2 separate regions of the Homo sapiens genome follow, and region 2 is linked to region 1. The links come from fine-mapping of genetic effects on gene expression. Tissue or cell type: whole blood. Region 1 holds a variant in brackets; the other region holds the start of a gene. All regions are shown on one strand. Distances are from middle to middle.

Region 1 (7,326 bases):
CAGGCACCATTTAAAAATTTTTAATTGTCTAATAATCAAATTAAAAGAAGTAAAAAGAAACAGACGAAATTAATATATTTTATTTAAACCAACATGTTCAGAGGATTATCATCCCAACATGTAATTGGTTAATAAAGATATGAATAGATGACAGATGGATGGATTGGGGTGTGTATGTGTGCATGTGAGCTCCTCCTCTATACCTTTTCTGGGTTCTGAGAAGCTCAGCGGCTTCGTCGCTATTCGGGGACTCACGGGCTTGCCCTTCAAGACCCAGCCTCAAAGCCCCAGACACTGCATCTCTGCTTTCCCGCCTTTTCTGTACCTGTCTCCATGTGGTGCTCCCTTCAGGGCCTGCACACAGGGAAGGGAGGGCCGTCCTCCCGCGAGGCCTCAAGGTGCCTATCGGTGCAGTGGCTCAAACAAAACAGGTGTGACAAAAGGCCAGGAATGCCTCCCAGGGGCTGAGGCACCTCAGGGAGCGTGTTAGAAGAAGTGGACGGTAAAAAGAGAGCGTCCGGGCCAGGAGCGGTGGCTCATGCCTGTAATCCCAACACTTTGGGAGGCCGAGGTGAGTGGATCACTTGAGGTCAGGAGTTCGAGACCAGCCTGACCAACATGGAAAAACCCTGTCTCTACTAAAAATACAAAATTAGCCGGGCATGGTGGTGCATGCCTGTAATCCCAGCTACTCAGGAGGCTGAGGCAGGAGAATCGCTTGAACCCGGGAGTTGAGATTGCACCATTGCACTCCAGCCTGGGCAACAAGAGTGAAATTCCATCTCAAAAAAAAAAAAGAGCGTCCAGAACCAGGACGCATGCGCACATTAGCCCCGACTGGAAGTGCATGAGGACAGAAGGGAAGCAGAAGTTGGGGCTGAGGTGTTCCTGCTGAGAAGAGTGATGGATGTAAATTTTGAAGCTCTGGATCCTGCCCACACCATGGAGCCAAGAGGACCAGAGGAGTCAGCATTGAACTGGAAATCAAGTTGGAACTGAAAATTGACTTATCCACAAATAGTAAGAACTGTGAATTTGGGCCTCAAGGAGAGGAAATTTTATTCCTAGGCAGGGTCTTCTTGGGAAGGCAGCCGGACAAGGCTTCTCTGAAGTCCAGTAAGGTTTTGGGAGGTTTCATTGAGAAACTGAATACTGAGAATGAAATGCTGAGAAATGAACAGATGCAACAGCAAAATTTTTTCCAAAAATTGTGCTGTGTTCTAAATATTTACATTGAATGAATGATACAAAAATATACTCAGGTCAATACAGTTGTGCAGATGATCGGATTTATAAGAAATAACGAGGTGACCTGTTAATGAGAGATAATTTTTTTTTTTTTGAGATGGCGTCTTGCTCTGTCGCCCACACTGGAGTGTAGTGGCACGATCTCGGCTCACTGCAACCTCCGCCTCTTGGATTCAAGCGATTCTCCTATCTCAGCCTCCTGAGTAGCTCCAGGCACGTGCCACCATGCCGAGCTAATTTTTGTGTTTTTAGTAGAGACAGGGTTTCCTCATGTTGGCCAGGCTGGTGTCGAACTCCTGACCTCAGGTGATCCACCCACCTCGGCCTCCCGAAGTGCTGGCATTACAGGTGCGAGCCACTGCACCTGGCCAATGAGACACAGTTTTTAAGTTGTACAGTGAATGACACTTCGTGGTCCCAATCCAGTTAGCCTACCTCTGTGACTCTGAAAAATCTCATCTCGAGATAACTTAAGGAGTGAAAATTGAAAGTCTTCCTAGTTTCTGCCCCTATTGGAGAGGGGCCCCAGATGTTCTGTTAGGAATTAGTAAGCAGGATGACCCTGAGAATAAGCCACAAGAGGAATCTGTGATAACTGGACGTCCTGAGAGATTTTCTCATCAGATCACCAGTGCTGGAGGGACATCCAGGCTCCATCCCTGATGCTACATTGGGAATGAGTGATGAGGGGTGCTCTGTATGGGGAGTGAGGTTTTTCATAATGTGCGAGGGTTTCTGGCTAGAACAACAAATAAAACAAGATTACGTTGAATAATCAGACTGGCAAGGCCTCTTGGAGGAGGTGTCATTGCCACAGAGACCTGGATGAAGTGAGGGAGCAAGGGAAGAAGGGAATGAGTCATGCAGGCAGAGGGAACGTGGCCTTTTGAAGAGCCCTTGAGGAGGCTGGAATGGGGTGCAGAGGGCTGGAGCAAAGTGATCAAGATGGGAGGGGGAGGTAGGAGATGAAGCCCATAGTAAAATCTATGGGGTTTTATTACGAAGTAATGGGAAATCATGGGAGGGTAGAGAGTAGAGAATAGAGGGAGAGCATGAACTGATTTAACATAAAAAGGGCTTTCGGGGAGGGGTGATAGAGGCTCAGTAGGAGGCTAAATACAAAAGCGGTCACTTGCTGTAGGGGGCGCTAAGGAGCATTACCTCAGGTCACCAGCCTGGGAAGTAGACTCAGGTGCAGGTGAGGGAAATGAGGCATCTTTCCATGGGAGAGCCATGGGGATTTTTGTTTGTTTGGGTTGTCATTGATTTAGGGGAGGAGAACCCAGGAATGTTGTGGTCAGTTGGTCTGTTGGGTGTCAGAAAATGTAGTGGGAGGTCTTAATGGGATGATAGTCATCAAGGGCGGGGTGCTGTGTTCATTTCTCAGGAGCATCTGAGGCCATTTCACCCTGTTGAAGTTCTCGGGCCGCCTCCACAGTGCCGCCATTGTTGGGGTTTGTAATGAAGTAAATCAGGCTCTCAGGAGGGACTATGTTTAGGAGGTAACATGAAGAGCACCCCGTCAGCCACCAGAATTCTCAACCTTGTCCCTCACAGCTGAATGGCTTTGGACAGATTGAAGTTAAGGTGTCTTTATTGTGGTTGCCTTAAAATATTATGTTAGGCTGGGCATGGTGGCTCACTACTATAATCCCAACACTTTGGAAGGCTGAGGCAGGAGGATGAGTTGAGCCCAGGAGTTCAGGACCAGCCTGGACAACATAGTGAGACCCCATCTCTACAAAAAATTTTAAAAATTAGTCAGGCGTGTTGGCATGCACTTGAAGTCCCAGCTACACAGAAGGCTGAGGCAGGAGGATTGCTTGAGCCCAGGAGGTCGAAGCTACAGTGAGCTATGTTTGTGTCACTGCACTCTGGCCTGAGTGACAGTGTGAGATTCAGTGTCAAAAATAAATAAAATAAAATGTTATGCTATGAAGTATTTCAAACACACATAAAGATATGAGAAACCATATTAACAAACTCCTGTGTACACATTCCTCAATTGTTTTTTTTTTTTAATTATTTAAGACGGAGCCTTGCTCTGTTGCCCAGACTGGAGTGCAGTGGTGTAATCTCGGCTCACTGAAACCTCCGCCTCCTGGGTTCACACCATTCTCCTACATTAGCCTCCTGAGTAGCTGAGATTACAGACACATGCCACCACGCCTGGCTAATTTTTGTATTTTTAGTAGAGATAGGGTTTTACCATGTTGGTCAGGCTGGTCTTGAACTCCTGACCTCTTGGTCTGCCCACCTCAGCCTCCCAAAGTGCTGGGATTTCAGATGTGAGCCACCACACCCGGACTGCGCTCTTATTTTATTGCTGGACAGCTACCATTCCACCATGTGGTCCACCCTATTTTACACATCCATTGTTTTTTTTTTTTGAGACAGAGTC[T/G]CGCTCTATCGCCCAGGCTGGAGTTCAGTAGCATGATCTTGGCTCTCAGCTCACTGCAACCTCCACCGGGTTCAAGCGATTCTCCTGCCTCAGCCTCCTGAGTAGCTGCGATTACAGGTGCCTGCCACTACACCCAGCTAATTTTTTGTATTTTTAGTAGACACAGGGTTTCACTATGTTGGCCAGGCTGGTCTTGGACACCTGACCTCGTGATCCACCTGCCTCAGCCTCCCAAAGTGCTGGGATTACAGGCATGAGCCACCATGCCCACCCCTGCCCCTCCCCCCCGCTTTTTTTTTTTTTTTTTAAGCCAGGGTCTGGTTCAGACTGGAGTGTAGTGTTGCCATCATAGCTCACTGTAGCCTTGAACTCCTTGGGCTAAGTGATCCTCTCACCTCAGCCTCCCAAGTAGCTGGGGCTACAAGCATGCACCACCATGCCTGGCTAATTTTTTCATGATTTTTTGGAGAAACAGGGGTCTCACTATCTTGCAGAGGCTGGTCTTGAACTCTTGGCCTCAAATGATCCACCTGCCTTGGCCTCCCAAAGCACTAGGATTATAGATGTGAACCACTGCACCCAGCCAACACAAGAAACTAAAATAGTTAAAAATTCTAGGGCTCTGAAATCTAATAGAACCTGAGTTGAAAGCCTGGCTCTGCTATTTCTTCTGTGGGTGCTCTTAGGAAAGTCACTTCATCTTTATGGGCCTCAGTTTCCTCATCTGTCAGAAGAGAGCAAGTGAATACAGTTGCAAATATTATTTCTCTAAGTATGACTCTATCTGAGTCATTATCTAAGTGGAGTTTTATAGCATAATAATAACAGCTACCTTTTATTAACATGAAAAAATCTAGGCTAACATTTACTGAGGTTTTCTAAACCCTTGTGAAGTATTGCTATTATTCCCACTTTACAAATGATGAAACTTTGGCCCTGACAGAGTAGCCACCCAGAGGTCACGTAGCTAGTAAAGTGGTAGGAACAGAATTTGAAATCAGGTCTGACTGATTTTATAACTCATATTCTAACCGCTAAGTTGTACCACCTTAAATGCCTCCAGCGGATACTTAGCAGTGGTTTCCAAACATTTTTTAAGGAATGGAAACATTTTTTTTTTCAAGCAAAGTCTTAAATGAAACAGTAGGTTATAAAGCAAGTGAAGGCCAAATTACACCAGTTAAAGCAGGGATAATGCAGGTACGGGTTCAATCCTGGCTCTGCCGGGTCCTGGCTGTGTGAGCTTGAACAGATTACAGTCTCCGTCATCACTTAATGGTGGAGATACGTTTTGAGAAATGAAGAACAGCAGAGTGCACTTACACAAACCTTTATCGTATCGCCTACTCCACACCTAGGCTGTGTGGTATAGCTTATGGCTCTTAGGCTGCAAACCTGCCCAGCATGTCACTGGACTGAATGCTGCAGGCAACTGTAACACAATAAGCATTTGTGTTTCTAAACATAGAAAAGGTACAGTACAAATATGATATAATCTTTTGGGACCACTGTTGTTTATGCCGTCTGTTGTTGACCGAAACGTCATTATACAGAGCATGACTGTACTTATCTCTCTGAGATTCAATTTCTTTGTTTGTAATATGGGGATAATGATGCCAACCTAATAGGTTTGTTTTGCGGATCAACTGAGATAATATATGCAAAGCACTTGGCATAAAGCCTGGCGCGTGATAAGAACCAAATTAAGAATGGCTGCTATTGAATTGTGGCTGTGGCTGTTACCACCTTCGGGACTGTCTTTACTGACGATGGGATTGAGTGGAAATTTTTCAGCCCCCCATCATCTGACCCAACCTGCATTTCCAGGCCTCCACGCCTACGGGATAGCCCGGCTGAATGACAGCGTTCCCAGTCCAGAATCCCGCACTACCAGTTCTTCGTGCTCTGCCCACTGGAGGGCCCTCTTCCCCCCTCCCTCCTCTAAAAGCATACTCTGGAAATTTTTTGAATATTTTAAGAAACTGTTATTGTAGAATATTTCAAAATTTGCAAAAATAAAAAGCTAGTATAATGAACCTCGTTTTTTATTAGGTAATTACCGACCTTATTTCTTGTGTACCCCAACCTGTTCCCCCCACTGGATTATTTTGAAGCAAATCCTAAAGAGTTTATTACTTCAGACATAGATTTATCATTAGGTATCTGCAAGGTAAAGACTCTTTTTTAACATAACTACAATAATATTTTCACATCTAAAAATATAATTTCTTTTTATTTTTTTTATTGTTTCTTTTTTTTAATTTTTTTTTTAGAGACGGAATCTCACTATGTTGACCAGGCTGGTCTTGAACTCTTGGACTCAAGCAATCCACCCACCTCGGCCTCCCAAATCAAAGAGCTGAGATTACAGGCGTGAGCCGCCATGCCCAGACCAAAGATGATAATGTCTTATTATCAATATGTCCGTGTTCAGGTTTCCTTCGTTGTCTCCTAAATCTTTTTCTCTCCCAGTTGGTTTGTTCAAATTAGGATATAGACAAGATTCATATGTTGCATTTAAGTGATGGGTCCCTTCAATCAACTTTTTTTTGAGACTGAGTCTTATTCTGTCACCCAGGCTGGCATGCAGTGGCACAATCTTGGCTCACTGCAACCTCTGGCTCCCAGGTTCAAGACATTCTCCTGCCTCATCCTCCCGAATAGCTGGAAATAACAGGTGTGCACCCCCACGCCCGACTAATTTTTGTATTTTTAGTAGAGACAGGGCTTCACCATGTAGGCCAAGCTGATTTTGAACTCTTGACCTCAGGTGATCCACCCCCCTCGGCCTCCTGAAGTGGTGGGAATACAGGTGTGAGCCACCATGCCCGGCCTCATCAATTTTTATCTTTTTTTCCCCTTTCCCTTTTTTTCTACAGTGGCTTTTTTTTTTTTTGGATGGAGTTTCGCTCTTGTTGCCCAGGCTGGAGTGCAATGGTGCAATCTCGGCTCACTGCAACCTCTGCCTCCTCCTGGGTTCAAGCAATTCTCCTGCCTCAGCCTCCCAAGTAGCTGGAATTACAGGCATGTGCCACCACACCTGGCTAATTTTGTATTTTTAGTAGAGACAGGGTTGCTCCATGTGGGTCAGGCTGGTCTCGAACTCCTGACCTCAGGTGATCTGCCCACCTCAGCCTCCCAAAGTGCTGGGATTATAGGCGTGAGTCACCGTGCCCGACTCTTCTACAGTGTTTTTGTTGAAGAAGCTGGATTATCAGTTTTCTAGAATTTCTCACAGGAAATGCCAAGGTTGGGGGGAGTTATTAACATCTTTCCTGTAGAATCCTTTACTGTGTTCCTCTGTGCCTTTTCATCCCCCTGCAAACTGGTAGTTAGATCTAGAGTCTAGAGTTTTAATCAGGTTTGGAGTTGATTTTTGGCAAGAATGCTTCCTATGTGGGGCCCTGTGCTTTCTGTTGCATCAGGTCTGCAGAAGCTTGTCTCTTCTCTCTCTGGGTGTTGGATAGATACATGGGTTCACTGGTTGTGAGCCTGATCCACCACCATAAATTTCCCCATCAGCATTTCACCTGCCGGGTTTGGCAGTCATTAATGTGAAGGGATTAGCATGTGCTACTCCAAAGTATGCTGCTTTAGCATAAGGATTATTTTGAGTAGAAGGCAATTAAGAAGCAGCAGACAGAAGAGGAACTCTCTGTCCTCTCCCTTTCTGCCTA
Region 2 (7,326 bases), 29 kb before region 1:
AAAATGATTCCACTAATACAGTATGGAGAACTGACTGCCAGGGAAGCAGATGGATGAGAGGAAGTGAGTCAGGGCCCTGCTGAAATCCTGGTAGGGATGATGGCACTGAGATGGGATGATGGAGATGGAGACGGATGGATGGATTCATATTTGGAATCCATAAGTATTTGGGGAGTACATCAGACTGCATTCTAGGGATAAGGAAGAAGATAATATTGAGATTCACTTTAAGACTGACTCTAGTCAGGCTCAGTGGCTCACGCCTATAATCCCAGCACTTTGGGAGGCCAAGGCGGGCGAATCACTTGAGGTCAGGAGTTCGAGACCAGCCTGACCAACATGGTGAAACCCCGTTTCTACTAAAAATACAAAAATTAGCCGAGTGTGGTGGCACATGCCTGTAATCCCAGCTACTCGGGAGGCTGAGGCATGAGAATTGCTTGAATCTGGGAGGCAGAGGTGGCAGTGAGCCGAGACTATGTGCCACTGCACTCCAGCCTGGGCGACAGAGTGAGATTCAGTCTCGAAATTAAAAAGAAAAAAAAAAAAGACTGACTCTAAGATAATGGTGCAGGAGATGTGATGGGAAGAGATCTTACGCCCCAAGACAGGGAAGGGTGGAAGAAGGAAGATCTGAGGCCAGGTCTGGACACATTTGATTTGGTTGATTTGGGACACCTGTGAGACACCCAATGGCAGTGTCAACTAGGCAGTTGAGCGTGTACATGTGAAGCTCACAGAAACCTAGGGTGAAGATTCAAACCAGGGGTGTCATGAAGGTGGTAACTGGAACTACGGAAACAGTTGCAGTCGACTAGAAGGAGAGCACAGGCGAGAACAGGAAAGAACCTGGAGCCAAGCTTGAAGGAAGTCACCATTTCGGGGATGAGTAGGGGAATGGTGAGCTAGCAAAGGGGTACGAGAAGTGACCAAAGGAAAGAGAGGGAAGCTAGCAGCGTAACGTATCAGAATTTGTGAAAAGAGGATGTTTCCAGAAGGGCGTGGAAATTGTGTTGAATGCTAATAAAATAAGAAAAGCGTAAGTCCACTGAATTTAGGAACATGGAGGTCACTGCTAACATCGGGAAGAGAAAATCCCATGGAAAATAGGCACAGAACCCAGATTAGGGTGGACTGAGGGGCGAGTGAGAATTAAGAATGTGGAAGTGATTACACAGAACTTTAGATAAGGGTCCAACTTCCTGTGATGACAGGCTGCATTATAAAGACGATGAGAGAAAACTGAACTTGGAAGGAACTGTGAAGGATATTGCTCTTGTGAAAGTTTACCCCCTTGAACTCGGTCTGAGAGGTTGGGTTTCCTTTTCCTGTGACGTAGGTGGACATCATGAACTGTGAGACTGAAAGCCTCCTTGGTGATGCTCCCTTCATAACTGCGGTGAACATTCATAACTGCTGTGAACCCAGAGAGGGGGTTTCGTTGGGGCGTCTTCCACAGGGGGACTCACGACAGTGACGGCGAAAGGCAGGAGGTGGGGGGAGAAGAACGTGCAGAGACAGAGAGGCAGTCCCACTCCTCAACACTTGTTTTCCAATGAGTTTCCTGGATTCTGCAATTAAATCCAGATCCTCGTGCATGTTTATAGGAAATCATAAAAGCGAAATGACACAAATAAATTTGGTGGCAACAAGAGAGAATGGTCTCTTTCTTAGTTCTCCTGTTGATCTGAGAAGCGACGTGTGCTGGGGGAAGGAAATAAAGAACTAGAACGCCTTCAGAGGAGAGTAGAGTGGACGAGAAAGAAAAGCTAAATATCAAAATGTCTAGACCCTGGGGTTACAGACCACAAAAAGAATAAATGACTGACTGACTGAATGACTGAATGAATGGCAAACAATAGGAAGTAGGTATGTCCTAGGGAAAGAATGGGGATTCTGTGAGCAGGAATCAGGCCACAGATGGCAGAACAGAGACTTCTTTCTGAGACTTCCTCCCTAGTTCAAGAGGAAAACACGTTCCAACGATCCTTGCTGCATTAGGTGTGTATTTCAAAGGGACCTTCAGGAGCTCCTAACCTGGGGCTACCAAGGTCAGAGAGGGGGAAACAGTGAGACTTTATCAGGGAAAGGAATGGAGCCTGAGTGCCACTCCCTGACGAAAAGCCACATGGGCACGTGAACTCGGGCCTCCTGAATTCCTGACACTTTCCCAAGAGGGACAGCACATCCATGCCCTGAGCCTCTGGAGGCTGCACCAAGTGGCTCACTCTCTGTGAAGCTGCGTTACAGGCTTGAGACGAGGCAGCACTTACGGGCATCTGCTAAGTGCTTTATATACACAACCTCACTGAATCCTCGCAGAAGTCCTAGGATGTCAGAATTCGCATGCTCACTTGACTACAGCAAACTAGACTTCAGAAAACGGATCTGCCCCCAAGGTTGTAATGAAGGGACCTGGATTTGAGCCCATATCTGCATGACTATAACTCCCACACCATTTCCATCACAACAAGATGCAGGCCAGGACCAGCCTGTTTCAGCTGAGACGGGCAAAAGAAATGTGTTGGGGGCAGAGGGCAGGAGACCATAGAGAAAGTAAAAAAATTGAAGAAGAAAAGGAAGGAGTGCCGGGTGCAGTGGCTCACGCCTGTAATCGCAGCACTTTGGGAGGCCAAGGCAGGCGGATCACTTGAGGTCAGGAGTGCAAGACCAGCCAACATGGTGAAACCCTGTCTCTACTAAAAATACAGAAATTAGCTGGGCGTGGTGGCAGGTGCCTGTCATCCCAGGGAGGCTGACGCAGGAGAATCGCTTGGACTCGGGAGGCAGAGGTTGCAGTGAGCTGAGATGGCGCCACTGCACTCCAGCCTAGACAACAGAGCAAGATTCAGCCTCGAAAAAAAAAACCAAAAAAAAAGAGGAAAAATAAAAAGGAAGGAGGAAAGCTCATTTCTGAGAATGAGCAGAATGACAGAAGAAACTGCCTAAGAAAGAGAAAAGAAAATAATCTGACTTGGGAAGTAAAAAAAGAAAAATGCCTGGGAATTTTTTTTTTAAATCAGGAATTAAGGACAGAAAAATCTGAATTTGGAAGTCAAGAGTGAGGATTCTCTAGGGAGAGAATAAAGATGCTGGGCCTTTCCTTTGGGTTTGAGAGGAAATAGTGCTTAAAGACTGACCTTCCTTTCTCTGGTCACGTGGCTGGTGCTAGTATAAATGCTTACTACCAGCCAGGTTCCTCACCATTTTTTCCTGCATGGCATGGACAGAAGCAGGGGCTAAAGCTCTGTTCCTCTCTCCTGGAAGCTTGCAGACCTCCCTTCAGAACCAATCCCAAGAAGCCACCTATCCGGAACAACACAAGGCAAGGCAGCTAGTGTAGTGCTTGTGCTCTGGGAAGAGAGGCCAGGATCAGGTTTGAGGGGAAGGTTCTGGGAGACTGGAGGAAGGATGTCAGAACCAAATGGAAGACTCATACCCAGAGACAGGAGCTAGTGTGAGGAGCAAGGAAACAGCCAGGAAATCAAGGCTGGAGAGTGGACAGAGGGACAGGACCTGGGTTGGGGCCAGCAAGGGTGACACCCCAAGTGGAAACTGAGTTACCCCGTGAAGAAGACGAGTTCTATTTATGGTCAGAATGCCACGCTCAAGGGCCAGTGAAGGCCTGTGGGCTTTTCTGAATATTTCTCTAAGGTCTTCTAGGGACAAGCCTTCCTCCTAAGGCTAGTGCTGGTTCATCCTTCTTCCCCTCCACCCTCCTCTAAGCCTCCCAGCTTCCCCTTTTCTTTTCTTTTTTTTTTTTTTTAGACGGAGTTTTTGCTCTTACCGCCCAGGGTGGAGTGCAATGGCGCAATCTTGACTCACTGCAACCTCTGCTTCCCGGTTCAAGCGATTCTCCTGCCTCAGCCTACCAAGTAGCTGGGATTACAGGTGCCCGCCATATCACCCGGCTAATTTTTTTTTTTTTTAGTGGAGATGGGGTTTCACCACGTTGGCCAGGCTTGTTTCGAACTCCTGACTTCAGGTGATCTGCCCGCCTCGGCCTCCCAAAGTGCTGGGATTACAGAAGTGAGCCACTGCGCCCAGCCCCAGCTTCCCCTTTTCTAGAGAGTCCCAGAGTTTGGTGTTGGACAGGAGAGGACAAGGTGGGGGAGAATCTGTGCTCTGCAAAACAGACGAACGGAAGTAGGAAGCTGGGCTGGTGGCTGGGCACTTGGGTCCTTTGGAGAGCTGGCACTGGGTATCCGCGCCTGGGGCGCCACAGCCTCTTTATACTGATAAGCATCTTACAGCTCTCTCCCGGCACTGATGCCTTTCTCTCCTGCAGGTCTCTGTCTGAGAAAGGGACTTGAGTAAAGTTAGAAACTGGCAACAGTAACTTCCTGTATCTGTGAGGACAGGAGGAGAAAGGCTAGGGAAACTGGAGGGGGAATTCCCTTGGGAAGCCACGAGTTGGTCTCCTCCAGAGACACATGATGGCAAACATAATCACTACTGCTTAATATCCCGCCCCAGGCAAAGTCAATAATTGCTCTGGGTAGTTCGAGCAGGTGGTGTGAGCAAGCCGTGGTGGCATCAGAAAGCACAGTCCTGGGAAGGGGACGGTGCCGGGGAGGATGTCCGCATCCTGAAGGAGAGCTGGCTGCGCGGGCTGTGAGTGAGACCTCCCTGACCCCGCCCTTTTTTGTTCCCCTCCAGGATGCTGCCGGACTGGAAGAGCTCCTTGATCCTCATGGCTTACATCATCATCTTCCTCACTGGCCTCCCTGCCAACCTCCTGGCCCTGCGGGCCTTTGTGGGGCGGATCCGCCAGCCCCAGCCTGCACCTGTGCACATCCTCCTGCTGAGCCTGACGCTGGCCGACCTCCTCCTGCTGCTGCTGCTGCCCTTCAAGATCATCGAGGCTGCGTCGAACTTCCGCTGGTACCTGCCCAAGGTCGTCTGCGCCCTCACGAGTTTTGGCTTCTACAGCAGCATCTACTGCAGCACGTGGCTCCTGGCGGGCATCAGCATCGAGCGCTACCTGGGAGTGGCTTTCCCCGTGCAGTACAAGCTCTCCCGCCGGCCTCTGTATGGAGTGATTGCAGCTCTGGTGGCCTGGGTTATGTCCTTTGGTCACTGCACCATCGTGATCATCGTTCAATACTTGAACACGACTGAGCAGGTCAGAAGTGGCAATGAAATTACCTGCTACGAGAACTTCACCGATAACCAGTTGGACGTGGTGCTGCCCGTGCGGCTGGAGCTGTGCCTGGTGCTCTTCTTCATCCCCATGGCAGTCACCATCTTCTGCTACTGGCGTTTTGTGTGGATCATGCTCTCCCAGCCCCTTGTGGGGGCCCAGAGGCGGCGCCGAGCCGTGGGGCTGGCTGTGGTGACGCTGCTCAATTTCCTGGTGTGCTTCGGACCTTACAACGTGTCCCACCTGGTGGGGTATCACCAGAGAAAAAGCCCCTGGTGGCGGTCAATAGCCGTGGTGTTCAGTTCACTCAACGCCAGTCTGGACCCCCTGCTCTTCTATTTCTCTTCTTCAGTGGTGCGCAGGGCATTTGGGAGAGGGCTGCAGGTGCTGCGGAATCAGGGCTCCTCCCTGTTGGGACGCAGAGGCAAAGACACAGCAGAGGGGACAAATGAGGACAGGGGTGTGGGTCAAGGAGAAGGGATGCCAAGTTCGGACTTCACTACAGAGTAGCAGTTTCCCTGGACCTTCAGAGGTCGCCTGGGTTACACAGGAGCTGGGAAGCCTGGGAGAGGCGGAGCAGGAAGGCTCCCATCCAGATTCAGAAATCCTTAGACCCAGCCCAGGACTGCGACTTTGAAAAAAATGCCTTTCACCAGCTTGGTATCCCTTCCTGACTGAATTGTCCTACTCAAAGGAGCATAAGTCAGAGATGCACGAAGAAGTAGTTAGGTATAGAAGCACCTGCCGGGTGTGGTGGCTCATGCCTATAATCCCAGAACTTTGGGAGGCTGAGGCAGGTGGATCACTTGAGGTCGGGAGATTGAGAACATCCTGGTCAACATGGGAAAACCCCGTCTCTACTAAAAATACAAAAAAATTAGCTGGGCATGGTGGCACATGCCTATAATCCCAGCTACTCTGGAGGCTGAGGCAGGAGAATCCTTGAACCCGGGAGTTGGAGGTTGCAGTGAGCTGAGATCACGCCACTGCACTCCAGCCTAGCGACAGAGCAAGACTCCATTTAAAAAAAAAAAAAAAAAAAAAAAGAAGCACCTTCAGGCTGGAGAAGCAGCGTAGCTAACACAAGTCCAGTCCTTGTGATGTGGCTGGTAGTTGGGGATGGCCAGGCTGAAGCAGAGAGTCCTAGAGAAATCTCGATACAAGCTTCAAAGCAACACCTAGACACTGCTCTAGCGGTTGATCCTGGAGATAAACCAACAAGAGAGAGATGGAAGAGAAATACTAAATGAGGTCAAAGAAGACTCAGAAAGGTTCTGAGCCTGGAGATGAGCAGGGAGGCCTCAGGGCTTAGACCTTTAATGATAGGGGTTTCCCTGCATTGGTTTGACCTGTTGCCTTTTTGATGTGCTCTGTTTGTTTTCATGTGTTGTCTTGTCTCCCCTGCTAAACTGGGAGCTGCCAGGGGTCTGGGTCTTATCTCCTTCCTCCATGGTACCCCACACAGGCCAGGATGTGGTTTGGTACCCAGCAATCAGAGATTGGCACTCCCTCATACAGGGGAAAGCAACCTGGTCTAGCAAATTGAAAATAAAGATGATAAAACTCTGAAGTGAATGTCCACAATTTTTGTAACACTGCTGCAAGCACAGGGAGGGCAAAAATAGGAGAGAGAACCAGATTCAGCAGCAAAGGGGAAAAGTGATGCATCTGAAACCACAGAAACATCTTAAGATAAAGAGGTGGTGTGGGCAAAGGAAGTGAGAGCACTGACGGAATCGTCTTTCGAGGGATGAATAGAGAGTCCGGACTTAGAAAGGATGCAGGGTGATTCCGATTCACAGTCATCTGTCTGCCACAGGGCCTTAAAACATGTCACCCTCCTGCTCAGAAACCTGCAGAGCTTTCCTATCATCAAAATGTTTCCTTGGCCAGTTGCAGGGGCTCATGACTGTAATCCCAGCACTTTGGGAGGCTGAGGTGGGAGGATCACTTGAGCCCAGGAGTTGGAGACCCACCTGGGCAACACAGTGAGACCCTGTCTCTCAATTTTAAAAATTTAATTTAAAAAGATGCGTCCGGCTGGGCACAGTGGCTCATGCCTGTAATCCCAGCAGTTTGGGAGGCCAAGGCGGGAGGATCGCCTGAGGTCAGAAGTTCTAGACCAGCCTGGCTAACATGGTAAAACCCCATCTCTACTAAAAAGACAAAAAAAATTAGCCGGG

The links. PIP is the estimated chance that this variant, and not a neighbour inherited with it, causes the effect. A credible set is the group of variants that fine-mapping cannot tell apart.
Region 2: it holds the start of FFAR2, and the variant in region 1 is the best candidate, but not a certain one, in a credible set for the expression of FFAR2 in whole blood (INTERVAL, PIP 0.72).

The regions. Positions count from the first base shown.
Region 1 is chr19:35,473,975-35,481,300 of GRCh38, forward strand. No RefSeq gene overlaps it. Among named protein-coding and RNA genes, the nearest start is that of KRTDAP, 13 kb to the right of the region's middle. The variant T/G (reference allele first, on the strand shown) is at 3,650.
Region 2 is chr19:35,445,055-35,452,380 of GRCh38, forward strand. It overlaps FFAR2 (free fatty acid receptor 2), which reads left to right and starts at 3,203. Exons shown (of 2, transcript NM_001370087.1): 1 at 3,203-3,325; 2 at 4,660-6,713. The coding sequence starts at 4,661. The coding sequence ends at 5,653. RefSeq lists an enhancer at 1,160-1,239.